7 linked regions of the Homo sapiens genome follow. The protein of the gene in region 6 purifies or fractionates together with the protein of the main gene of each other region. This does not show direct contact. Each region holds a gene or a part of one and is shown on either strand. Other genes may lie near its edges.

Evidence for each region.
Region 1: the proteins of SCARB2 (region 6) and MKI67 purify together in Homo sapiens (affinity purification with mass spectrometry; one large-scale study listed by BioGRID and IntAct). This does not show direct contact.
Region 2: the proteins of SCARB2 (region 6) and ALPI purify together in Homo sapiens (affinity purification with mass spectrometry; one large-scale study listed by BioGRID and IntAct). This does not show direct contact.
Region 3: the proteins of SCARB2 (region 6) and ITPR1 purify together in Homo sapiens (affinity purification with mass spectrometry; one large-scale study listed by BioGRID and IntAct). This does not show direct contact.
Region 4: the proteins of SCARB2 (region 6) and TMEM59 purify together in Homo sapiens (co-immunoprecipitation; one large-scale study listed by IntAct). This does not show direct contact.
Region 5: the proteins of SCARB2 (region 6) and SF3A3 purify together in Homo sapiens (affinity purification with mass spectrometry; one large-scale study listed by BioGRID and IntAct). This does not show direct contact.
Region 7: the proteins of SCARB2 (region 6) and LRCH3 purify together in Homo sapiens (affinity purification with mass spectrometry; one large-scale study listed by BioGRID and IntAct). This does not show direct contact.

The regions. Positions count from the first base shown.
Region 1 is NC_000010.11:128,105,924-128,109,423, forward strand, and holds part of MKI67 (proliferation marker protein Ki-67), read right to left. Parts: coding exon 1-3,500. UniProt on the Homo sapiens protein: Protein that associates with the surface of mitotic chromosomes and acts both as a chromosome repellent during early mitosis and chromosome attractant during late mitosis.
Region 2 is NC_000002.12:232,455,006-232,458,952, forward strand, and holds the start of ALPI (intestinal-type alkaline phosphatase precursor), read left to right. Parts: upstream 1-1,147; 5' UTR 1,148-1,194; coding exon 1,195-1,261; intron 1,262-1,343; coding exon 1,344-1,460; intron 1,461-1,574; coding exon 1,575-1,690; intron 1,691-1,893; coding exon 1,894-2,068; intron 2,069-2,144; coding exon 2,145-2,317; intron 2,318-2,559; coding exon 2,560-2,694; intron 2,695-2,789; coding exon 2,790-2,862; intron 2,863-2,992; coding exon 2,993-3,127; intron 3,128-3,211; coding exon 3,212-3,403; intron 3,404-3,626; coding exon 3,627-3,743; intron 3,744-3,854; coding exon 3,855-3,947. UniProt on the Homo sapiens protein: Alkaline phosphatase that can hydrolyze various phosphate compounds.
Region 3 is NC_000003.12:4,842,848-4,846,347, reverse strand, and holds part of ITPR1 (inositol 1,4,5-trisphosphate-gated calcium channel ITPR1), read right to left. Parts: intron 210-3,500; coding exon 123-209; 3' UTR 1-122. UniProt on the Homo sapiens protein: Inositol 1,4,5-trisphosphate-gated calcium channel that, upon inositol 1,4,5-trisphosphate binding, mediates calcium release from the endoplasmic reticulum (ER).
Region 4 is NC_000001.11:54,050,405-54,054,696, forward strand, and holds the start of TMEM59 (transmembrane protein 59 isoform 2 precursor), read right to left. Parts: upstream 2,801-4,292; 5' UTR 2,785-2,800; coding exon 2,596-2,784; intron 1-2,595. Other genes in the region: TCEANC2 (transcription elongation factor A N-terminal and central domain-containing protein 2), read left to right, coding at 4,019-4,120.
Region 5 is NC_000001.11:37,969,523-37,973,022, forward strand, and holds part of SF3A3 (splicing factor 3A subunit 3), read right to left. Parts: intron 214-3,500; coding exon 49-213; intron 1-48. UniProt on the Homo sapiens protein: Component of the 17S U2 SnRNP complex of the spliceosome, a large ribonucleoprotein complex that removes introns from transcribed pre-mRNAs.
Region 6 is NC_000004.12:76,172,325-76,175,824, forward strand, and holds part of SCARB2 (lysosome membrane protein 2), read right to left. Parts: coding exon 3,467-3,500; intron 1,990-3,466; coding exon 1,820-1,989; intron 1-1,819.
Region 7 is NC_000003.12:197,790,060-197,794,053, forward strand, and holds the start of LRCH3 (DISP complex protein LRCH3), read left to right. Parts: upstream 1-1,194; 5' UTR 1,195-1,219; coding exon 1,220-1,481; intron 1,482-3,994. UniProt on the Homo sapiens protein: As part of the DISP complex, may regulate the association of septins with actin and thereby regulate the actin cytoskeleton.

The sequences.
Region 1 (3,500 bases), on a different chromosome or scaffold from region 6:
GGTCATTGATTCCTCAGTGTGACCTGGTGTCTGGAAGAGCTCTTTGAAGCCAGCCAGATCTTCTAGAGCCTTGGCCTTTTCTTTAGGAGTTTGTGGCCGTCTCTTGCTGCCAGGTAAATTTCCTAGCAGGTCCAGTTTCTCCACTGGAGTCCCCACAAATGTGTTGATGTCTTTCTCTTCACCTACTGCTGCTTTAGGCGTGTGCATGGCTTTGCCTGCTGATGGTGTTAGTTTCCTGAATGCTAAAAATTCTTCCTCTACGTCTGCTTTCTTGAGGCTTCTCTTGGGCCGTTGCTTTGTGTTTGTTGGGGTGTCCGCTGGGTCTGATTGCGGAGATTTGCAGAGTATTTTTTTGGTAGTTTTCTCATCAGTCGTGGGGTTATCAGTGCATGGTGTCTGGAAAAGCTCTCTGAAGCCAGTCAGTTCTTCTAGAGCCTGGGCCTTTTCCTTACGAGTTTGTAGCCGTCTATTGCTGCCAGGTAAATTTCCTGGCTGGTCCAGTTTCTGCACTGGAGTTCCCAAAAACGTGTTGATGTCTTTCTCTTCACCTACTGCTGGTTTGGGTGTGTGCATGGCTTTGCCTGCTGATGGCGTTTGTTTCCTAAATGCTAAAAATTCTTCTTCAGTGTCTGCTTTCCTGAGACTTCTCTTGGGCTGTGGCTTGGAGCTTGTTGGGGTGTCCACTAGGTCTGGCTGTGAAGCTCTGTAGGATACTTTGGTAGTTTTTTCGTTAGTCATTGATTCCTTAGTGTGACTTGGTGTCTGGAAGAGCTCGATGAAGCCGGCCAGGTCTTCAGGGACTTCAGACTTTCCCTTAGGAGTTCTCAGCTGCCTCTTGCTGCCAGTTAGACTTGCTGCTGAGTCTAAGATCTGCTTTGGAGACTCCATAAATGCTTTCATGCTCTTACCATCTCCTGTTGGCTCTGTGTGTGTGTGTGTAGTCTCTCCTGATGTCTGTGTGAGCTTGCCAACTGCTAGGAGCTCTTCTTTCACGCCCACTTTCCCCAGGGATGTCTTGAGCCGTCGCTTGGAGCTTGCTGGGTTTTTGTCTGGGTCTGGTTGTGAAGATTTGCAGGCTACTTTGGCAGTTTTATCGTTAGTCATTGATTCCTCAGTGTGACCTCGTGTCTGGAAGAGCTCTTTAAAGCCAGCCAGGTCTTCTAGAGCCTGGGCCTTTTCCTTAGGAGTTTGTAGCCGTCTCTTGCTGCCAGTTAAGTTCTCTGTCAGGTCCAGTTTCTGCACTGGAGTTCCCATAAATGCGTAGATGTTTTTCTCACCACTTACTGCTGGTTTGGGTGTGTGCATGGCTTTGCCTGCTGATGGTGTTCGTTTCCTGAGTGCGAAGAATTCTTCTTCTACGTCCACTTTCCTGAGACTTCTCTTGGACTGTGGCTTGGAGCTTGTTGGTGTGTCCACTGGGTCTGGTTGTGATCTGCAGGCTATTTTGGTAGTTTTCTCGTGAGTCGTGGGCTTGTCAGTGCATACTGGTGTCTGGAAGAGCTCTTTCAAGCCAGCCAGGTCTTCTAGGGGTTGGGCCTTTTCCTTAGTTTTTGGGTGCCTCTTGCTACCAGTTACACTTGCTGCTGGGTCCAGTTTCTGTTTTGCAGTTTCCCTAAACGCGTTGATGCTTTTATCCTCACCTCCTGGTACTTTATCTGTGTGTGTGGTTTCCCCTGATGTCTGTGTGAGCTTCTTCAGGGCTGAGAGCTCCTTCTGTACGTCCCTTTTCTCCAAAGGTGTCTTGGGCTGCCTTCTTGTGCTTGTTGGGGTGTCTGCTGATTCTGGTGGAGAAGATTCGCAGGGCATTTTAGTAGTTTTGCCAGCAGCCACTGCTTCTTCAGTATGACCAGGGGTCTGGAAGAGCTCTTTAAAGCCAGTCAGGTCTTCCAGAGCCTGGGCCTCTTCCTTAGGAGTTTGTGGCCGTCTCTTGCTGCCGGTTAAGTTCTCTGTCAGGTCCAGTTTCTGCACTGGAGTTCCCACAAATATGATGATGTCTTTCTCTTCACCTACTGATGGTTTAGGCGTGTGCATGGCTTTGCCTGCTGATGGCATTAGATTCCTGCACGCTAAGAGTTCTCCCTCTACATCTGCTTTCCTGATACTTCTCTTGGGTCGTTGCTTTGTGCTTGTTGGGGTGTCCACTGGGTCTGACTGTGGAGAGTCGCAGGGTATTTTAGTGGTTTTACCAGCAGCCACTAATTCCTCGGTGTGACCAGGAGTCTGGAAGAGCTCTTTAAAGCCAGCCAGGTCTTCTAGAGCCTGGGCCTTTTCCTTAGGAGTCTGTAGCTGTCTTTTGCTGCCAGGTAAAGTTCCTGCCAGGTCCAGTTTCTGCACTGGAGTTCCCATAAATGCTTTAATGTCTTTCTCATCACCTCCTGCTGGTTTGGGCGTAAGCATGGCTTTCCCTGCTGATGGTGTTAGTTTCCTGAGTGCTAAGAATTCTTCCTCTACATCTGCTTTCCTGAGACTTCTCTTAGGCCATTGCTTTGTGCTTGTTGGAGTGTCCACTGATTCTGGTGGTGGAGATTTGCAGGCTATTTTGGTAGTTTTCTCATCAGTCATTGATTCCTCAGAGGGACCTGGTGTCTGGAAGAGCTCTTTGAAGCCAGCCAGGTCTTCTAGTGACTGGGCCTCTTCCTTAGGCGTTCTTGGCCACTTCTTCATTCCAGTTACACGGGCTGCTGGGTCCAGGATCTGCTTTGGAGACTCCTTAAACGTTCTGATGCTCTTGCCATCTCCTGCTGGCTCTCTGTGCGTGTGCGTGGTCTCCCCTGACGTCCGTGTGAACTTGCCGACTGCTAGGAGCTCTTCTTTCACACCTACTTTCCCCAGGGATGCCTTCAACTGTTGTTTTGTGTGTGTTGGGGTGTTTATTGGTTCTGGTTGTAATGACTGGCAGGGCATTTTAGTGATTTTGCCTTTCTCACTCTTTGGTGCCTTGGCATGATCTTGGGTTTGGAGGAGATTCTGGCCACGTGCCGTGTCTTTCATGAGTTCTGTATCAGGCAAGCTCTTGAGGTCTGTCAGGTCAGACATTGGTGCACATTTCTGCCCCCAAGTTCTTGATCTCTTCATTGCTTTCATCTTTTCATCGTTTTCTTTTAATTCAATATTTTCCTTATATGTCTCAAAAGGTCTTTCTATTTCCTTCATCTCTCCTTCTCTCCTTTGTTGTAGTAGTGTTGCCTTCTGACCTCTTTTTAGGATGCACTCAACAATTTCTGTATTTGTTTCTTCACTCTTACTTTCCACAGGTAGCTTCTGTATATTCCTGAACTCTGTAGACCTTCCTGACCTGTTTGCAGTGGATACTGTTTTTGAAGGCTCTGTCTCAGTATCTGAAGTTTTTGTCTCCAGAGAAGTCATTTTGTAGGTGTTCCTGGGCGTTTTTGCTACGTTTCCATTTTCTCTAATACACTGCCGTCTTAAGGGAGGGCTTGCAGAGCATTTATCAGATGGCTGTTTTGCTGCATTCTGTGCACTGAAGAACACATTTCCTC
Region 2 (3,947 bases), on a different chromosome or scaffold from region 6:
CAAAACACGGTACATCAAGTTTACCTCCTTCACCATTTTCAAGTGTACAGGGCGGCAGTGTTGAGTACACGCACAGTGTTGTGCAGCTGATCTCCAGAACATTCTCATCCTGCAACCTTGAAGCTCTGTCCCTATTAAACTCCAACTCTAACCCTAACCCCAACCCTAACCCATTGCCTCCTCCCTCAGCCTCAGGCAACCTCCATTCCACTTCTGTCTCTATGTATTTGACTCCCCTCGGGACCTCAGAGAAGTGTGTTCGTGCGTATTTGTTCTTTTGCACTGGTATATTTCACTGAGCATAATGTCCTAAGGTTCATCCATGTTGTAGCAGGTGTCAGGGTCGCCTTTGTTTTCAAGGCTGCGTGATACTCCATTGTATGTGTGCACCCTGTTTGGTTTCTCCATTTCTCTTTTGCTGGACACTTGGGTAGCTTCCAGCTCTTGGCTGCTGTGGATAATGCTGCTGGGAACATGGGTGTGCAGTTATCTGTTCGAGTCCCTAGTTCGCATTCCTTTGGCTACACACTCAGAGTGGGATGTCTGGACTGAAGCAATACTTTTGAACTCAGCCTGAGGTTACCAAACTCTCTGAACTCCTTATCAGAGGCTACACTTCTGGGTGTTCCCCGGGGCCCATGGAAAACAGACTCACCCCAGGCTCCATCTACCTGTGCAAGGGAACAGGGGTCAACCTCAAGTGCACAGGCTGCTCTGGAAGACCCAGCCCAGGTCTGGCTGACCCAGAGCACTGGCCCCTTCCCAGCCTGCGTCCTCAGGACATAGGTGTGGGCACCCATATACACCAAGTGGGTTCTAGGGCAGCCAGGCCACCCAGTGTGCCTCCTTTCACACTCCTCTGGGGCTCGTGACATTACGAGCCCTAACCCGGGCCCTGGCCTAGGCTGTGTGTTTCCAGTCTCACCTCTCTTCACACCTTGAATGAGGTGAATGAAGGAGTGGCAACGCGTCTCCCACAAGACACTGTGAGCCACACCCAGTCCCTTCCCTTCAGCAAGCTTGGCTTCAGGTCACAGGACTGGGCGGGGTCAAGATGGACACCAGGGGTGTGGGGAGGGACGTGGAGCATTTACAGCCAGGGGCAAAGTCCTCCCCTGATTTAAACCCAGGCAGCCTGCGCTGCAGCCGGTTCCTGGTGTCCCCACTTCGCCTCCCTCCTGCTGCCCCCAAGACATGCAGGGGCCCTGGGTGCTGCTGCTGCTGGGCCTGAGGCTACAGCTCTCCCTGGGCGTCATCCCAGGTAATGAGGCTCCCCAAGCTGTTCCACACACAGGGCACCCCCTCAGCCAGGCTGACCTGATCTCTACTCTCCCCCTGGCCAGCTGAGGAGGAGAACCCGGCCTTCTGGAACCGCCAGGCAGCTGAGGCCCTGGATGCTGCCAAGAAGCTGCAGCCCATCCAGAAGGTCGCCAAGAACCTCATCCTCTTCCTGGGCGATGGTGAGTGAGCAAGGCCTGTCCAGCCCCGTAGTCCTCACAGCCCCGGCACCCGGGACCTTCAGTGGTTCCAGGACAACCCTGGGGCCCAGGACTCACACATTTCTGCTCCTTCAGGGTTGGGGGTGCCCACGGTGACAGCCACCAGGATCCTAAAGGGGCAGAAGAATGGCAAACTGGGGCCTGAGACGCCCCTGGCCATGGACCGCTTCCCATACCTGGCTCTGTCCAAGGTAAGGGCTGGGCCACCTCAGAGTCCTCCAAGCAGAGGAGAGGGATCAAGGATATGGAGTGTGGCAGGAGGGAGGGAGCCAGGACAGCTGGGGCCTAAGTTAGGAGCTGGGAGCAGTTAGGATCCCAGAGGACCAGAACCAGGTCCTTGGTTGGGGTCTGGGTGTCCGCCCCGAAGTAGAGCTCAGGGTGTCTCCGTTCGCAGACATACAATGTGGACAGACAGGTGCCAGACAGCGCAGCCACAGCCACGGCCTACCTGTGCGGGGTCAAGGCCAACTTCCAGACCATCGGCTTGAGTGCAGCCGCCCGCTTTAACCAGTGCAACACGACACGCGGCAATGAGGTCATCTCCGTGATGAACCGGGCCAAGCAAGCAGGTGAGCTGGGGCCCGCTGTGGGGTCAGGACCAGGCCCAAGATCTCGGTCACCGATCCTGACCTCTGTCACCCTCAGGAAAGTCAGTAGGAGTGGTGACCACCACACGGGTGCAGCACGCCTCGCCAGCCGGCACCTACGCACACACAGTGAACCGCAACTGGTACTCAGATGCTGACATGCCTGCCTCAGCCCGCCAGGAGGGGTGCCAGGACATCGCCACTCAGCTCATCTCCAACATGGACATTGACGTGCGACCCCCGGGCCAAGGGCTGGGGCTGGGCAGAGGGGAAGGTGGCACAGGCTCAGATCCAGGCAACCAAAAGCCTGATCTGGGTCAGCAGGTTCTGGAGGTGGAGTTGGGGATGTAGAATGTGCAATACAGGCTGGGCCATTCCCACAGCCCTGGGGAGGGGAGCCAGGGGCTATGCATGAGGAGGGGGCACGGGGCCAGCCAGGCCCCCAAACCACCTGCCCCATCCATTGTCCTCAGGTGATCCTTGGCGGAGGCCGCAAGTACATGTTTCCCATGGGGACCCCAGACCCTGAGTACCCAGCTGATGCCAGCCAGAATGGAATCAGGCTGGACGGGAAGAACCTGGTGCAGGAATGGCTGGCAAAGCACCAGGTGATGGGGGCTGGTGGGTGTGGGAGGCACGGCAGGGGGAGGCCAAGTGTGTGGGTCTCAGGGCTGTGGGCTGAAGCCTGGCTCTGTCCCTGCAGGGTGCCTGGTATGTGTGGAACCGCACTGAGCTCATGCAGGCGTCCCTGGACCAGTCTGTGACCCATCTCATGGGTAATGACCCCCTTCCTGCCCTGGCATTCCTCAGACAACCTCAGAGGGTGCCATCCGAGCCTGTGTGCCCATTTGCCAGCACCCTCCCGCTCACAGCCTGCCAATCACCACCAAGCTCCTTGTCCCACAGGCCTCTTTGAGCCCGGAGACACGAAATATGAGATCCACCGAGACCCCACACTGGACCCCTCCCTGATGGAGATGACAGAGGCTGCCCTGCGCCTGCTGAGCAGGAACCCCCGCGGCTTCTACCTCTTTGTGGAGGGTGCGTGGTGGCCCCTGGGGAGTGGAGGAAGGCGGGGCGCGGCAGGGCAGGTTCAAGCATCACCCCCCTCTGGCCTTCCTGCAGGCGGCCGCATCGACCATGGTCATCATGAGGGTGTGGCTTACCAGGCACTCACTGAGGCGGTCATGTTCGACGACGCCATTGAGAGGGCGGGCCAGCTCACCAGCGAGGAGGACACGCTGACCCTCGTCACCGCTGACCACTCCCATGTCTTCTCCTTTGGTGGCTACACCTTGCGAGGGAGCTCCATCTTCGGTAGGCCTGGGGAGAGTGGCAGGTGCTGCTGCATCAATTATGAGGGTGAAGTTTGAGCTTCAGTTTCCTCCTCTGTCAAAAGTGTGCAATGCTGGCACCAGCCCTATAGGGATCTTGTGAGGACCGAGCCCCCGAACAGGCAAAAAGTGGCGGTGCCTGGCACATAGGAGGCACTCCCACAGCTGTGGTCAGCTCAACTACAGGGACCCGCATCTCCCTACAGGGTTGGCCCCCAGCAAGGCTCAGGACAGCAAAGCCTACACGTCCATCCTGTACGGCAATGGCCCGGGCTACGTGTTCAACTCAGGCGTGCGACCAGACGTGAATGAGAGCGAGAGCGGTGAGTGAGGCTGAATGGCCCGTGCAGGGGGACCAGGGTGCCAGGGATGGGGGCATTCGCGGGAGGGGGACGCCGCCTGCCTGCCCTGAAGTGCACTCACCCTCCTACCAGGGAGCCCCGATTACCAGCAGCAGGCGGCGGTGCCCCTGTCGTCCGAGACCCACGGAGGCGAAGACGTGGCGGTGTTTGCGCGCGGCCCGCAGG
Region 3 (3,500 bases), on a different chromosome or scaffold from region 6:
ACTGAGTATTTACAAATGTATTCAGCATAAATGTAACCTTCGTGGGTGAATCAGAACTCATTAGCCATACCCACACTAATAATAATTATAAAAGGTAAATACAATTCCTTTCTTTCATTTGCTTATGCTGGTTGTTGTGGGTTGACATTCATGTGAGGAGGATGTCCTAGAAGACCAATTCTTTGTTTCTGCTTCCTTTGTTCTGTCATCTGGAAAGTTAAAAAGTTTCATCATTAGACCCAGATACTTCCTGTACGTCAAATCGCATACTGAACCATAGATTTACCTCTGTGGTTATGGTTTATACTGAAACCCACTTTCTACAAATAGTGTACCATCGCTATATCAAACACACAGCACTTCAAAAAAGGCATCTTCTTAGGCAGAATGGGAAATTCTGTGACCTAGTCATGCAATGTAACATTCAGAAGTATTGCTTGCCACTTGTTTCATAAAGAAACAAAAAACAATAAAAGCACAGGATTCTTTCTTGTTTCCCAAATGCACTTCCAAATGATTTGAAGACTCATTGGAAAATGGTGGCTTTGTACGATAGTAACAACACGCCATACTAACAAGAAAAGCAGTGTTTAGAATCCTAGGTTTGAGAGGGAGGGTTCGTGTCCACACTTTCAGTGGGTCCTGATTTTTCTCTTCAATGACTCTTGAGTAGTTGGTTAGAGAAAAAAAAAATTACCTACCATAACTAGGAAAATGAGAAATGTTCTCAAATCTCTTTGAGGTCCAGAATGATTAAATGCTGTAAATAATGCTGTGACCATTCACGGTATCTATTTCTTGCCACCCAGTAGACACTGAGGCTCGCTGAAGGTCAGGCGAGACCATTGCCTAAGACTAGTTCAAATGAAAAAGTACTTTCAAAATCCCAAACAAGAAGCCGATTCTATTCATTTGGTTGCTGAACTAAATATATTCTCATGTTGATGGGTCTCTAGACCTGTTCTAGGTATTTTAGGGCATACTTACTTCTGTCTCTGTATTAAGATTTTCCTTAACCCAGTTAGTCTTAGTTTTGGATTTTAGGGTGAGCATTCAAGTCAACTGAGATAAAAAGGCTATACGGAATATATATTCAAGAAAATTGTTGTCTGCAAGTGGGTTAAGGTCCTACTCCTATGTTTTTAGCTTCCTAAAATTGTAGAGGAATTAGGGTAAAAAGAATAAAGGCTTTGGAATCAGATCTAGTTTCTTATGGTTTTGTCATTTAACTTATCAAAGTCTGTTTTCTCATCCATACAATCAGGATGATAATTCCTAGCTGATTGGTGGAGAATTGCGAGGTTATACGCAAATTTATTAGCATAGCATCTGTCACATAGTAGATGTGACACTTAATCTCACTTTTCACATGAACTCATTTTTGGTACAAAATATCTGGAGAGAACATAAAACAAGACTAATTTACCTAGGTTCAATTTCAATGTGGTTATTTTTTCTTCTTCAAAACTAGCATTATCCTCTCAAATCAAAATACTATTTTTAGGCTCCTGTGGAGATGCTTTCTCTGTTATAATTTAGATGAGAAGACTTACAAGGACTTAGTATTTCCAAAAGGTAGCTTTTAATAAAGCTTTTAATTAAGAATTGGATTAGGAAATTCCAGCTAGCCCCTGAAGTTTCCTTAGGTGAGTGACATCTTTAAAGGAAGTGTTACACACTACACTGTATCCACAGATTCGGCTCAGGAAGGAGAACCTAATATGACACATGAAATAAATTCACAATTAGGTTAAAATGCCAGTAATTCATTCATCTTACTACCTGATAGTTCAGATGTTTAGCTCAGATTTTTCTCCCACAACCCTTCCCTTGGCAGGTAACCTTGAGAGGGAATCCAATACAACTTAGCTAAATTTGGATAATCTCAAGTGTTCAAATTGATTTAGAAATCTTGGTGTGCTCAGCCAGGTGCAGCGGGCTCACGCCTGTAATCCCACCACTTGGGGAGGCTGAGGTGGGCAGACTGCTTGAGCCCAGGAGTTCGAGACCAGCCTGGGCAACGTAGCAAAACCCCATCTCTACCAAAGGGGAAAAAAAATTAGCTAGGCATGGTAGCGTGCACCTGTAGTCCCAGCTACTTGAGAAGCTAAGAGTGGGAGGATCACTTGATCCTGGCAGGTGGAGGTTGCAGTGAACAGTGATGATGCCACTGCACTCCAGCCTGGGCAACTGAGATCTTGTCTTGGAAAAAAAAAAAAAAAAATCTTGGTCTGCTCAACCCTTATTGAAGGATACTTTACTCAAAGCTTATATTTAAAGCTGCTGAAATCTTTCAACTCAAAGTTGAATGTCAAAGTTGGCCATTAAGACTTTTTTCCCCTGTAATTTTGCTTTAAATAACTACTTGTATTTGAGATGACCTTTTAGTATGCGTATTTTCATCCCTGTTTGTTACATCAGCTCTCCTTGACTTTTCAATTTGTCAGTTAGTCTTTCTCTTCAACTTGAAGAAACCTCTGAAACTTTACAACAAAGGAGTCTTCAGTTGGTGGCCTGGCTTCCTTTTCACTTCCACAGCCGCGGCCTGATGCCTCCTCAGTTAGCAGCCCTATTCATCTGTCTTCATAAGTGATCCCATCGCCCACCCTCCCTCCGTCCCTATCCTTAAGGCTCCCCACTGATGTGGGTTATTGGCCAATTCTTTGCTCAGGTAGTCATATTCCTGATAATTTTAAGTACCAACTACACATCTAATGTTCTTTTCTGTTTCTCTAGAAGAATGGTTCTCAAACTTCAGCATGCGCCAGAATCACCCAGAACATTTGTTAAAACACAGATCAGAAACAGAGTTTCTGACTCAGTAGGTCTGGGGTAGGTCCCATGAATCTGCTTTTCTAACGATTTCCCAGATGATGTAGACGTTGCCGGTCTGGGGACTACACTTTGAGAACCACTGCTCTAGAAGAGGTTTTTCACTGATAATCTCCAAAATCGGACAAGATCATTTTGAGTATATACTTGAACACTTTTTTTAAAAAAAGTAATTTGTGTACATATATTATTTTTCTCAAATGAGGGAAGCTCTTGGAGAAGATTGTCTGCAACTGAGCATATAGTAGGCACACACATTTGACTGATACTCTTTTGATTAACCATGGCCTTTTAGACAGAATGGCTGTCATTTAAGTCAACATCACTGCCATTTAAGTGACTGCTAAAGGAGAAGGAATTGGGCAACTGCTAAAGTGTTTGGCCTTTTAGTAGCAGTCATCATCCAATTACAAGAGAACCAAAAAAAAAAAAAAAAAAAAACCCCTCAAAACCCTGAAGGACTAAATCTGACCTATAAGAAACTGAGGCCAACAATTCTGGACGCTTAGGTTTCTCCAGCCTCTTAGTGCATATTCTCACATAATTTCTGGTTTTATTAGTTCAATTCTTCTTATCTACTTACCTACCCCACCTACATACATTCACACGTACTATCTATATATCTTGTTATAAGGCATCATTATTGTCTGTTACTCTTACCTACATCA
Region 4 (4,292 bases), on a different chromosome or scaffold from region 6:
GAGCCACCGCGCCCAGCCTAAAACGAGATTTCTATCTCGTTTTTCAAACGCTATGTGAGTTTGAAAATTCATCTAATTTCTTACAATACACAGTGCTTTTTCCTGGAGCACAAAGCACAGAGGAGAGCCAATAGAAATCAGTGACATAATTAAATATGTTTCTTTTTTTTTTTTTTGATGCAGAGTTTCCCTCTTGTCGCCCAGGCTGGAGTGCGGTGGCGCGGGCTCACTGCAACCTCTGTCTCCCGGGTTCAGGCGCTTCTCCTGCCTCAGCCTCCTGAGTAGCTGGGATTACAGGCGCCCGCCACCACGACTGGCTAAATTTTTTTGTATTTTTAGTAGAGACAGGGTTTCACCATGTTGGCCAGGCTGGTCTTGAACTCCTGACCTGAGGTGATCCACCCGCCTCAGCTTCCCAAAGTGCTGGGATTACAGGAGTGAGCCACCGCGCCCGGCATTTTTTTATTTTTATTTTTTTGAGACACGGTCTCATTCTCAGACTGGCGTGCACTGGCGACATTTCGGCTCACTGCGACCTGCGCCTCCCAGGCTCAAGCAAGCCTCCCACCGAGTAGCTGGGACTACAGGTGCTCGTCTCCATGCCTGGCTAGTTTTTTTGTTTTTCTTTTTTCCAGAGACGGGGTCTTGCCATGTTGTCCAGGCTGGTCTCAATCTCCTGAGCTGAGGTGATCCACCCACCTCGGCCTCCCAAAGTGCTGGGATTACAAGCGTGAGCCATCGCACCCGGCCGAATATGTTTAATGCAAGTTTATTAATAGGAGGCAGCATAGTGTAGCCAGTTTTAAGCTGAATTCCTGCTCCACTATTTCTTGGGTATGTGACCTTAGGCAAGTCACTTAACCTTTCAGAGCCTCAATTTCCTTAATTTTAAAACCCTACTTTACAGGGTTGTTGTGAGAATTAGGGATAATGGTATGATAAATCTCCCATCACTCTGGCTAACAGTGGAGTCTATATAAATTTCAAGTCCAGGACCTATAGGGAGCCAGATGATTTGGAGTTCTTTGTGAGAAAAGCTTTAATAAATAAGTAAAAATAGTTTATAGATATAACACCAATTGTTAGAAAATAGTGGACATTATTAAAGTACCTACAACTTCCAGGAAGGTATCCTTTCAAATTATTTGATTATTTTCCCAACATTCTGGTTTATACCACAAAATTGCCGAGAAAATCCCAAAAAAGGAAACAAACCCTAGAACAATAGAAAGTAAGTCTCAACCCAATTCCAGGCCAAATCAATATTAATGAGCTTCTTCATACAATCCTCTTAATGATGAGAAGTTTACAAGAGGTGGAGAAAAATAACGTGGTTAGAAGCAGTATTCATTGATTTAAGTCTGAAGTTAAAACTTCTCACTTCTTTCTCGATTGTTACATAAATCTCTGGAAAAATTTAGTACAGTCCCTTCTCCCACACTTTTTTTTGAAAATTGATAATCTCCATGCAGTTTAAAATCCAGCCGTAACAAAATCTGAGAAGTGCCGGCACTTAGAACTTTTCATTTCAAAGACCTGAAAATACTCGCCAATATGGAACATCCTAAGCTTCACTGGAACTGTCTCCGTAGCCACTCCAGTTTTAGAGAGCAAGGAGGTCCAGCCACAATGGTTAAGCAAATAGCATAGAGGAGATGAAGGAAAAACGAAGAGGAAACCACCAGCAACATCAACAAAAGCTCTCATAAAACAACGTGGGGGAGGGCATATACTCAAATCATACATGGGAAAGGTGTGGTGGGAATCATCAAGCAATTTAGAATGTTGAGTAAACAGAGTTCTTAGGCTGAAAAACCAACGTGAAGAGGGTTAGGTATGTAATTAAAAGAAAGGGGGGAAGCATAGAGAGGAGGGCCATTCCTCTCTGTAAGCTGCGAACCCCCTCCTGTCCACAGTCTCATTTCTTCACCCACTCCACGAATTCCCCGTTTTCTGCACTGAGTGGTCAGTTTCTGGTAGGCAGACACCTAATTGCCTCTTCTCTAACCCAGTCCCTCTTGGCAGCGTCTTGGACACAGTAACTCAACATAGGCAGACAGCATTCCTGAGCGTCTCGCTACTCCCTGAGCTGCCTTCGTGACGCTTTTTATACCACAGTGGAATCGTCTACTTGTCTGACTCCCCGAAGACTGCGCTCCTGGCCCCGAGAGGCGCTTAGTAAACAAGGGTTATCAATCAATCATTTGTGGACTCGCGTATCTGCGCCTCCCTTTCTACAATCCCCCCTTACGCTCCCTTAGGTGAGGACCCCGCATTAATCATCCATATCCTCCCCTATCCTCCTCCGAGTGCTCGACTCCCCTGCAGCCCGGCAAGCTCCCAGAGGAAAGGGATCGCGTCTTTCTCATCTTTGTGTCCCCCAGCCTATCACAGGGTAGTGCAGGACAAACTTCCGGTAATGACAGCAGAAATGGGGTGCAGGCAGGATTAGGGAGGAAAACAGGAGCTACACAGATGGGAGACAGCGATTGAAGGGCCGATTTAACAGCCAGGTTGCCAGAGCCGACATACGTGTGGGGAGCCGAGAAATGGGCTGCAAGGGAAGGGTCGCAGCCCGCTCCGGACGGGCCCTACCTTAGGGTAGGTGTGCAAGGGGTAGGTCAACTGACAGGCCCGGTGGCAAGACGCCGTATCACCCAAGACCGAGTCAAATGCTTCAGCCGAAGCGGTCCCCGAACCTCCGGCCAAGGCCATGGTCAGCAGCAGCAGCGGCGGGAGCCCCAGTTGGGTCCTCACCCAGAGGCTCCCCTTCGGCGCCGCCATCTTGTTCCCCTCTGTCACAGCAGCTCAGCTTGTTGCTGTTTTCTCGGAAGGGTTTCCTCCTCCTCCTGGGGCCAGCCCCCTTCTCCGCCCCACCGACCGTTGCTTCCGCCTCCGCTGTCACTTCAGCTCCGCCCTCACCCGCCAGAAACTGCCGCCTCCTGCCTCACCTCTGGGACTACGAACTTCTTCTCCTAGGCTGGCGTGAGGAGGGGAATTCAACCATCGCAAGCGTTAGCGCGAAGCGGGGCCTCCTGACTTCTTCCCTTCGCGGGGCAGGCTGGGGCATGTAGTTCTCCGTAGGCGGGAGGCGCACGGTGCTGTCGGGAAAGTTGGTCTCGGAAAACTACAGCCGCCCTCAGCGCGCCTTCCGCCCGCATTTCTTCGCAGTGCATTCTGGGGAATGTGGTTCGCTGTGGCCCAGAGGCGCGAGGGCCGGCGGAGTTTCTTCAGAGGAACTACCGCCCTGGGAGGAAGCGTCTGTTTAGTTTCAACACAGACGACTGGGCTTGGGAGCCTACGAGGTTGCAGTCTGGAGGGCGCCAACAGCAGCTACCAGGGCTGCTTTTCCTGGTGGGTCTCACGTCAGACCGTTGTTGGGTGCCCCTACCCGGGCTCCTGAGTGCTGGGAACGAGGAGGATGGGGTTTCTCCTTGTTCGGGGATCCAGAGATTACAGCCGTGGGTAGGGTCCTCTGACCACCGAGCAGTTTGTTCTAGGGGATGCTGCGTATTGTGAGACCCTCTGCTGAGTTCTGGAGGTGGTTGTCGGTTGCTGATTACCAGGGCAACCCTTGGGATTATGGCTGTGGTGAGGTGGTTGTTAAGAGGGCGTCACTGAGCCTAATGTAATCCTAACCCTTTCACAGCCCAATCTTATTTGGAAGAGGGCTTAGGTGCACGCTCTAGCGGGGATTCCAATATTGGGCCAATTCCCCCAATGTTGGAATCCTCGCTAGAGCGTGCACTTCTGGAAGCTAGGAACCTCCTAACTCAGGACGTAGACTGATGATTGATTACAGTTTCAATTCTTCGGAAGATCTTTCTTTTAAAGAGAAAATCTTACTTCCTGTCAATTCCACTCGAGGCCCCATAATTCATGAATTCTTCCAGAGAACTCAATTGTGTTACTTTGGGGAAAAAATATCATGGCAGTCTTTAGTGGGGTTTTAGAATCTGCCCTCTTTCTTGACCAGAACACGCTGCAAGCACGTCAAGGTAGTCGGAGTCCCCTAACAATGGATAAATTCGTCATTCGAACGCCTAGAATCCAGAATAGCCCTCAGAAGAAAGATTCTGGAGGAAAGGTTTACAAGCAGGCCACGATTGAATCTCTGAAGGTGAGAGGGGATCTGGGGCTAGAGGAAATGTGCAAAGGACTGATAGCAAGGTGGTGCTAGAGGTTCTGTTGTGGAAAGACCTATGAATTATTTCTTGTTATGCCTCCTCCTCAAAGTGTACCTGACCACTCCTCCTTTGTTTCGCCCATAGCTGTACAGACTTACATTTATA
Region 5 (3,500 bases), on a different chromosome or scaffold from region 6:
TGTTTCCAAAATGGGGAATGGGGAGAAAGTGGTAGTGCTGAGACTTACTTTGCCATCCCAGCCAAGTGGCAGGTTTTTGGGGTTGTAAATGATCTCGTTCTCTTCATCTTCACTCTCACTCTCACTGATCTGCTCTTCTTCCTCTTCTTCTCGCTCTTCTCCTGTCCTGGCTTGCTTGCGCTGTACATTTTCATGAGTGAGATGTCGCTGTTCCTAAAGCAGGTCCATAAATGAAAAGTCAGAAAAAAGTAGTGCAGAATAAGAAGGGAAATTTCCTGTTTTCCTGTAACTTTTGCTGACCCCTTACTTCCAAGGATAAGGTTCTTTCTTACAGAATAAAGGAAAATCTTGCCTTCATATCAGAACTCCTTATCAGCAGGCTCTACCTGATCCCAAAGAAAAGAGTCAAAGGTTTTACATCACTTGCCTAATTACTCATCTGAGGCTATTATAGAACAACAGAAAACAGTCTCATCTATTCTGACTCTAAAATATTTCCTGGCTGGGTGTGGTGGCTCACGCCTGTAATCCCATCACTTTTGGAGGCTGGGGTGGGAGAATCACTTGAGGCCAGGAGTTTGACATCAGCCTGGGCAACACAATGGGATCTCATCTCTACAAAACATTTACAAATTGGCTAGGCATGGAGGTGTGCACCTGTGATCCCAGCTCTTTAGGAGGCTGAGTTAGGAGGACTGCTTGAGCCCAGGAGTTTGAGGATGCAGTGAGCTCTGATCCCGCCACTGCACTCCAGCCTGGGCGACAGAGTGAGACTCCTTCTCAAAAAAAAAAAAAAAAAATATGCACACAATACAGGAGCACCCAGATTCATAAAGCAAGTCCTCAGAGACCTACAAAGAGACTTAGACTCCCACACAATAATAATGGGAAACTTTAACACCCCACTGTCAACATTAGACAGATCAACGAGACAAAGTTAACAAGGATATCCAGGAATTGAACTCAGCTCTGCACCAAGCGGACCTAATAGACATCTACAGAACTCTCCACCCCAAATCAACAGAATATACATTCTTCTCAGCACCACATCACACTTATTCCAAAATTGACCACATAGTTGGAAGTAAAGCACTCCTCAGCAAATGTAAAAGAACAGAAATTATAACAAACTGTCTCTCAGACGACAGTGCAGTCAAACTAGAACTCAGGATTAAGAAACTCACTCAAAACCGCTCAACTACATGGAAACTGAACAACCTGCTCCTGAATGACTACTGGATAAATAACGAAATGAAGGCAGAAATAAAGTGTTCTTGGAAACCAATGAGCACAAAGACACAACATACCAGAATCTCTGGGACGCATTTAAAGCAGCGTGTAAAGGGAAATTTATAGCACTAAATGTCCACAAAAGAAAGCAGGAAAGATCTAAAACTGACACCCTAACATCACAATTAAAAGAACTAGAGAAGCAAGAGCAAACACATTCAAAAGCTAGCAGAAGGCAAGAAATAATTAAGATCAGAGGAGAAGTGAAGGAGACAGACACACAAAAAAACCCTTCAAAAAAAATCAATGAATCCAGGAGCTGGTTTTTTGAAAAGATCAACAAAATTGATAAGACCGCTAGCAAGACTAATAAAGAAGAGAGAAGAATCAAACAGACGCAATAAAAAACGAAAAAGGAGATATCAACACCGATCCCACAGAAATACAAACTACCATCAGAGAATACTATAAACACCTCTACACAAACAAACTAGAAAATCTAGAAGAAATGGATAAATTCCTGGACACATACACCCTCCCAAGACTAAACCAGGAAGAAGTTGAATCCCTGAATAGACCAATAACAGGTTCTGAAACTGAGGCAATAATTAATAGCCTACCAACCAAAAAAAAGTCCAGGACCAGACGGATTCACAGCCGAGTTCTACCAGAGGTACAAAAAGAGCTGGTACCATTCCTTCTGAAACTATTCTAATCAATAGGAAAAGAGGGAATCCTCCCTAACTCATTTTATGAGGCCAACATCATCCTGATACCAAAGCCTGGCAGAGACCACAACAAAAAAAAGAGAATTTTAGACAATATCCCTGATGAACATCGATCCAAAAATCCTCAATAAAATACTGGCAAACTGAATCCAGCAGCACATCAAAAACTTATCCACCATGATCAAGTTGGCTTCATCCCTGTGATGCAAGGCTGGTTCAACATACGCAAATCAATAAACGTAATCCATCATATAAACAGAACCAAAGACAAAAACCACATGATTATCTCAATAGATGCAGAAAAGGCCTTTGACAAAATTCAACAGCCCTTCATGCTAAAAACTCTCAATAAACTAGGTATTAATAGGATGTTTCTCAAAATAATAAGAGCCATTTATGACAAACCCACAGCCAATATCATACTGAATGGGCAAAAACTGGAAGCATTCCCTTTGAAAACTGGCACAAGACAGGGATGCCCTTTCTCACCACTCCAATTCAACATAGTGTTGGAAGTTCCGGCCAGGGCAATCAGGCAGGAGAAAGAAATAAAGGGTATTCAATTAGGAAAAAAGGAAGTCAAATTGTCCCTGTTTGCAGATGACATGATTGTACATTTAGAAAACTCCATTGTCTCAGCCCAAAATCTCCTTAAGCTGATAAGCAACTTCAGCAAAGTCTCAGGATACAAAATCATGTGCAAAAATCACAAGCATTCTTATACACCAATAACAGATAAACGGAGAGCCAAATCATGAGTGAACTCCCCTTCACAATTCCTTCAAAGAGAATAAAATACCTAGGAATCCAGCTTACAAGGGATGTGAAGGACCTCTTCAAGGAGAACTACAAACCACTGCTCAACGAAATGAAAGAGGACACAAAGAAATGGAAGAACATTCCATGCTCATGGATAGGAAGAATCAATATTGTGAAAATGGCCATACTGCCCAAGGTAATTTATAGACTCAATGCCATCCCCATCAAGCTACCAATGACTTCACAAGCTTACCAATTTCTTCACAGAATTGGAAAAAACTACTTGAAAGTTCACATGGAACCAAAAAAGAGCCTGCCTTGCCAAGACAATCCTAAGCCAAAAGAACAAAGCTGGAGGCATCACGCTATCTGACTTCAAACTATACTACAAGGCTACAGTAACCAAAACAGCATGGTACTGGTATCAAAACAGAGATATAGACCAATGGAACAGAACGGAGTCCTTGGAAATAGTATGACACATCTACAACCATCTGATCTTTGACAAACCTGACAAAAACAAGAAATGGGGAAAGGATTCCCTATTTAATAAATGGTGCTGGGAAAACTGGCTAGACATATGTAGAAAGCTGAAACTGGATTCCTTCCTTACACCCTATACAAAAATTAATTCAAGATGGATTAAAGACTTAAATGTGGGCCGGGTGCGGTGGCTCACGCCTGTAATCCCAGCACTTTGGGAGGCCAAGGTGGGTGGATCACCTGAGGTCGGGAGTTCGAGATCAGCCTGGCTAACATGGTGAAACCCTGTCTCACTAAATA
Region 6 (3,500 bases):
GTTGCAATCATAGCTCACTGCAGCCTTGAATTCCTACGCTCCAGCCTCAGCCTCCTGGGTATCTGGAACTATAGGTGTATGCTACTATGCCCAGCTAATTTTTAAATTTTTTGTTCAGATGGGGTCTCCCTGTTGCCCATGCAGGTCTAAATTCTTGGCCTCAAGTGAGCCTCCTGCTTCAGCCTCCTAAAGTGTTAGGATTACAGGCATGATCCACCATGCCTCACCAATATATTTTTAATAACTCTCCAGATAATTCTGATGTAAAGCCAGGTGTGGGGGTCACTGCCCTGTCAGACAAGGATCAGGAGGTATACTGCTGACTTCAGACTTATTCCAAAATGATATCTTATTCTTTTTTTTTTTTTCTTTTTTAAAAGATGGAGTCTCGCTATGTTGCCCAGGCTAGAATCAAACTGGGCTCAAACGACCCTTCCACCATAGCCTCCTGAGTAGCTGGGTCTACAGGCACACGCCACCATGCCAGGCCTGAAAGGAGATTTTAAAATGAGATAGATAAGGGAGCAAAAGTGAGCACATTACTATTCAGGAGAAAGGGACTACACAGAGAGCTCTCCAGAGAAATTTTAAAGAGGAATTACAGCCCAAGAGGGAATCACAGGGCAAATATGAGAAGACCCTGAGTTCCGCCAGGGATCTGCTCAGAGGGAGGAGTCGCATCAAAATCACGTTCCCTCTCTGAGCCCTAGTTTCCCCAATTATAAAAACAGGCCGCTGAATGTCTACTATCTAGTAAGTTCATTGTGAATAATTCTGCAACATGTGGCTGTTAAAACTACTCTTCAAGATGAAGAAAATAGTTTTGTCAGTTGTGCCACTGATAATTCTGCCTCATTCATGGAAAGGAGCAGAGTAGCTCTGACATTAAGAAACACTGGGACATTTGTGTCAGGGTTTAAAACTAACTCTGCTTCAAAATCACTGAGAATCTTTGCCATGATACGTACTTTCTTAAAACTGAGTTGTCCACTTTTTCTTTTAGCTTTTTTTTTTTTTTGGTGGGGAGGTGCGGAATCACTCTATTGCCCAGGCTGGAGTGCAGCAGCACAATCATAGCACAGTGCAACCTCGAACTCCTGGGTTCAAGCAATCTCTCTGCCTCAGCCTCCTGAGCAGCTGTAACTACAGGTGTGTGCCGCCACACCCAGCTAATTTTTTAATTTTTTTTTTTTTGTAGAGACAGGGTCTTGCTATGTTGCCCAGGCTGATCTTGAACCCCTGGCCTCAAGCAATCCTCACATCTCGGCCTCTCAAAGTGCTGGGAATACAAGCATGAGCCACCGTGCCCAGCCTTAGCATTGTTTTGAACATGAAATCAGTTAATGTTTTGCATGCATTAACTACATGTAAATATGTAAAGCACTTAGGACAGTGACTGGCATACATCAGGTGCTTAGTAAACATGAGCTATTATTACTGTTAAGACTTCTAAACCACTGTCCAGAAAAAAAAACACAACATGGCATTCTAGAAATAAAAAGCATCACAGAAAAGCCATGATTTTTTTTTACCATTCAATAGCCATGTTATGAAACATTGTTCTTGAAAGAAACTGATCTTTCTATTGGGCTGACAATATATTCTTTTTTGTTTGTTTTGTTTTTTAGAGACAGTGGTCTCGCCATGTTGCCCAGGATGGACTTGAGAACTCCTGGGCTCAAGTGATCATCCCACCTCAGCATCCTTAGTAGCTGGGACTGTAGGTGTGCGCCACTACGCCCAGCTACATATTCTTTGTTGAACTCCAATCCTTCTGCATTCTTGACACCCCTATCATGTCCCCTCTCTGAGTTCTTACCATTCTTGCAGATGCTGACATTCAGAACTCCTGAGCCCAGGCAGTTTCCCTCAGGTATACAGAAGCCGGCATTGTCTGACGTATTGGCTAATATTTCTGCAGGAACTTTATACCGAAAGGCAGGCAGTCCCTGTACACTCTCATAGTCACTGAAAGTAATATACACTGACCTGTTAGGATGTAAGAATAAAAAGTGAATGTGGACTCTGGTCAGTGTAATCTGCCCGAAATCCGCAAGTTAGCAACAGTTCTCAGGTACAACATGGCCAAAAGCTCACAGGGTAAGTAGAAAGGAATGTTTGGAAGGCATTCTGTCAACTCAACGTGTAATAAAGCAGAAGATGAATTGTAGTGGAAGGTGTTTATTGTAGCAACGGTGATATCATCCAAACAAGAAAAAACAATATGTGGTACAAAATTAAGATGATAACATTTAGAATGGAGACTCACATAAAAAAGAAATAAGAGGCCTCTCTAGACCTGCATGGACATATGCCAGTGTGGACGGGCCACCGGCAAAGCCAGGGAAGCCAGGGCACGGCAGAGCCAAAGCTAAGGTAGAACAGGCAGCGATGGCCGTGGCCTCGTAGGGTCTTAGGCACTTGAAAAGTGTCACATTGGACAGATACTTTATTGGAATACACACTTTGATACTCAATCCCCCCCTCCAAGAAAAATCAGATTCCATATTTTGCCCCAGTCATTTATTTAAATGGAGTTCAACGTAATTCTGCCTTTCATTCTTACTGATTTCAAACATAGTCCCATGTAATATGACCACTGCTTACACTGCATAGTGCCTAACCACTTTGATGTACACAGTCACCACTGAGCCTTCAGCCCTTCCTTTGAAGGCTGGCCGGAAGAGCCTTCTGGGCCTCACTTTTTCATCTCTGAACCAGAGCTGTTGATACATCTCTCGCAAGGTTGTGAATAACATAGGTGGTTTCACTGCACAAACCAAACCACCCCTACAGCATTTTTTAATGAAAAATTTTAGGCACCAGAAAGAGATAAAATACTCTAACAAATACCTTTGTATCTGCCACTTAGACAAATAAAAATTATATTATGGATATAACTGAACCTGTCTACGTAATGCTCTTGATTCCATTCCTTCTCTGCCTCCCCTGAGGAAACCACTCTGCTGAAATATGGACAACAGTATCTTTTATTTGGCTTCCATGTAGAGACTACCTATTGACTGGAAGTAGACCAGGTCAGTTGATGCTTGACAGAGCATATCATAGTAACTAAGAGCCAACACTTAATATTGGTTACTGTGTGATGGGCCCTGGGCTAAGTATTTGACTAATACTAACTCATTTGTCCTCATAACAACCTCTAACATAGTTAACAATTTCTATCTTTGTTTTACAAATAAGGAAAGTGAGGTACAGAGTGGTTAAGTAATTTGCCCAAGGTCACACAGCTATAAGTGGTAGAGCCAAGATTCAAACCAACAGTCAGAAGTCTGTGCTGTGAACCAGTACACTATACTGTCTCGATGTGCCATCAGCATTTATCACTGATTATGCATAAATATCCATGCATAATAAGTGTGTCTGCATATATTCCTCATGCTTTTGGTGGTCTTGCAGTGAAAGACCTTATTTTTGAAAAAGAACTTATCTTTAAAGCTTTTACCTGCAAAAGTCAGATGGGAAGACATAAAGGACCT
Region 7 (3,994 bases), on a different chromosome or scaffold from region 6:
ATTGTTGGTAAAATTTACATCATATAGCAGAAATGGCTTCTTCAGTAAAACAGACTGAAGAATATGCTAGAGACTGGCTGCAATATAAGTGAGGTCTAATTGGTTTTAAATGAAGTATTTTCCACTCTTTCATTTCTTGAGTGGTTTCAATTTAGAGCATCTCTTCGGTTCTACCTTTAATTCCCACATTTAGATTACAGTGAGATCATTTTCTGTTCCTCAATTTTGGTTCCAGACCAACATTTTAGATTTTAATACTACTATAATCTTGCTTTATCCAACAATAAAATCTTGCCAAAAGTACAAGTACTATTGAAGATATTTGTTGTATTTTCATTAAGAAAAGCTATTTTATAAAAGGGATGGATGATATAAAATAATACGTTTTTAATGAGAATTTTGAGCCCAATTAGCACGTTTGTTTGTTTGTTTTCTCTCCAGCAACCATAGTAAGTCCACCAAACCTTGATTTAGATCATCTGGTAATACAATGAAGTTGGGAAACGGTTTAGGTCGTATCTCAGAGGGTCCGCTCCTCTCACCATCCAAGTTTCTGCAGCAGCAGTGTTAAGAAAGATTCCTTGCCGGGCGCGGTAGGTCACGCCTGTAATCCCAGCACTTTGGGAGGCAGAGGCGGGCGGATCACTTGAGGTCAGGAGATCGAGACCATCCTGGCCAACATGGTGAAACCCCGTCTCTACTAAAAATACAAAAATTAACCGGGTGTGGTGGTGCGTGCCTGTAGTCCCAGCTACTCGGGAGCCTGAGGCAGGAGAATAGCTTGAACCCAGGAAGCAGAGGTTGCAGTGAGCCGAGATCGCGCCACTGCACTCCAGCCTGGGCGACAGAGCGAGACTCTGTCTCAAAAAAAAAAAATTCTTAATTTAATGCTTAGTCGACTCCTCCACTACTGAGGGAGCAAGGCGGAGAAGTTTTGATGCGGAGCGTTGCCTGAAAGATGTTTTTGTAGAGGCATTTTAGAAATGCCCCTGGGAGGTTAGAGTAGGGGGCTGCTCTGGATTTGTGAGGTCCGTTTTAACTTCCCTTGAAAAGCGCATCATGTGGGCGGGGGCAAGCGCCTGGCTGCGCCGGGGGGCACCACGGTGCTGCCCATCACGGGAACCGTCCGGGGTCGGTCCGTGAGCCCCTTTCTCCGCCCACCCAGCGGTCCGGCCGCGCATGCGCTGAGCTGGCGGGCCCGAGTGTTGTCGGCTGGGAAATGGCGGCCGCGGGCTTGGTCGCTGTGGCAGCGGCTGCCGAGTACTCTGGCACGGTAGCGTCGGGAGGTAACCTCCCTGGTGTTCACTGCGGCCCAAGCTCCGGGGCAGGCCCTGGTTTTGGCCCGGGCTCGTGGAGCCGCTCTCTCGATCGAGCCCTGGAGGAGGCGGCGGTCACTGGGGTGCTGAGCCTGAGCGGCCGGAAACTGAGGGAGTTTCCCCGGGGAGCGGCCAACCACGACCTGACGGACACCACCCGGGCGGGTGAGCGGGGCGGGGGGCGTCTCTGCCCGTCGGAGACCCGGCGCCGGGAGCCGCCCCGGCCGGGGGAGGCGGATGCGGGGGAGTTACAGCAGCTCGTCCCGTAGGCGCCGGGTCCGGACCCGGGTAACGGGGAGAAGCCGACGGCGCCAGCCCTCCGGGCCTGCGCCAGACCCAGAGCCTGGGGAGAGGCGGCGGGCGGCGGCATCTCTCGGGGAAGGGGGCCGGAGTGATTGATGGATGATTTTTTAGGCTTTCTGAGGAAAATCAGTTTCTGCCACGGCGGAGGTAGACCCTTGCCCCGCCCCGGTTTCTGCAGGCCCTTTCGGATTTGGGGTGCCGAATGGACCTGCTAAGACGGGAACGTTAGCGCGAGCTCTTCACAGATCAGAGTAGCAGGGGTGTCTGGACGAGCTGCATTGTCAGGAAGGGTCGGTCTCAGCCCTGGAGTTTTTTCGAAAGAAGTGTTGGGGAGCGTGTGTTTAAAGTGGACCCGAAAGAAGTGTTGGGGTGTGTGTGTGTTTAAAGTGAACCCGAGAGAAGTGTTGGGGTGTGTGTGTGTTTAAAGTGAACCCCAAAGAAGTGCTGGGGTGTGTGTGAAGTGAACCCGAACGCTGGAACGTCTTTCTTCGCCTCCATCTAGTTGACTTACAAAATAAATACGCTTGTAAAAATAACTAGAGCCCACTTTCCGACTCCCATTAGTTTCCTCTTCCACTCCTCATGTCCTCCAAAAAAAAGTTGAAGCAAACTACTTAGAAAAGATAGTCTAACATATTTGTACTTGCTATTCCTTTTTAAAGCATTACTTCGTGTTATGTATGTTTTCGAACACAGGAAAGAGAATAAGAAAGTAGGTATTATTTGGCTTTCTTAGTTGTGGCGAACAGTGTCTGGTGCCCGAGTTGTTCATCATCATGTTTGCAGTGCCGTCATCACTGCTCACTGCAGCCTCGACCTCCCGGGCTCAGGTGATCCTCCCACCTCAGCCTCCTGAGTAGCTGGGACTACAGGCAGCCGCCACCACGCCCAGCTAATTTTATATATATATATATATATATATATATAAAATATACATATATATATAATATACATATAAATATTATATATAAAATATATATATATTTTTTCGAGACGGTATCTCGCTCTTGTCTCCCAGGCTGGAGTGGAATGACACAATCTCTGCTCATTGCAACCTCTGCCTCCCAGGCTCAGGTGATCCTCCCACCTCAGCCTCCCGAGTAGCTGGGACTACAGGCGCCCGCCACCACACCCGGCTAATTTTTGGATTTTTATTAGAGACGGGATTTCACCATGTTGGCCAGGCAGGTCTCGAACTCCTGACCTCAGGTGATTCGCCCGCCTCGGCCTCCCAAAGTGCTGGGATTACAGGCGTGAGCCACCGCGTCCGGCCAATATTTTGTATTTTTTTGTAGAGACGGGGTTTTGCTATGTTGCCCAGGCTGGTCTCCAACTCCTGGGCTCAAGCTATCCGCCGACCTCGGCCTTACAAAAGGTTGAGATTACAGGCGTGAGCCACTGCGGCTGGCAGTACTTGGTGTCTTATTTTATTTTAAAATCTTAGATTGAGCACATTTTCTATGCTTTGCAGTCATTAAAAATTTATAAGTATTACATATGATTCACTCATTTTGGAAAAATAAACAGAACTGTTAAACTAAAGAAGCGATTCTTTCCAAAGAAACTTTTGCTGTAGTTTAAAATAGAAGAAATTAAATGCCTGCTTATTTAATCTCTTTTTGGAAACAGTTGAACTGAATATTTTTTAGTGATTTAAAGTTTCTTGCTAAGGTAAATATGAGCAGCCACTTTCCTTTTGTGTGTGTTCTGGTAGACGGCATGTAAAATTATCATTCACACCTCAGATTTCCTGCTTCTGTTTAGGAGATGGCTATATGGTATAGTGATTTCATATTGGTGTGAGTCATTTCATTGTTACTACATCAAGCCTGAAGCTAAAGAACAAGTTGATTACAGGAGTCTGTCTAGCTCATTTTCTCACCTGCTTTTCAGTAGGTCTAGGAGCACCGTGTTGAGTCCTTAAATATTTTATTGACTAAGAAAATCCAAGTGCATTTATGAAGAATAATAAGTAATACCAAAGAGGTTTTTCCTTACTGTGCTCTGAGTTTTTAAGTATGGTGTTGCCTACACTTTAATAGTTTTGTATAGAAACCACATTTTTTGTTGGTTGATTTTTCATCTGGTCAAAACGTGTAAAAAGAAAATAAAAAGATTACAAGGTATTTTATAAGCTATTAGACTAGATTCATTTCTAACATGTAGTAATATCACTTATGAAATATAAAAAAAAATCTTTGGCAGACCTTGCTCGTTACCCAGTCTCTGTTTTAAACAGATAATTTAATGCCAATGACATCATTTATTGAGTGTTCACTATTTGTAATTCACCGTGTTAGATATTTTGAAATATACTGCCTTGTTAAATGCACACAATAATTTGTGGATTAAATACTATCCCCACTTTACATGTG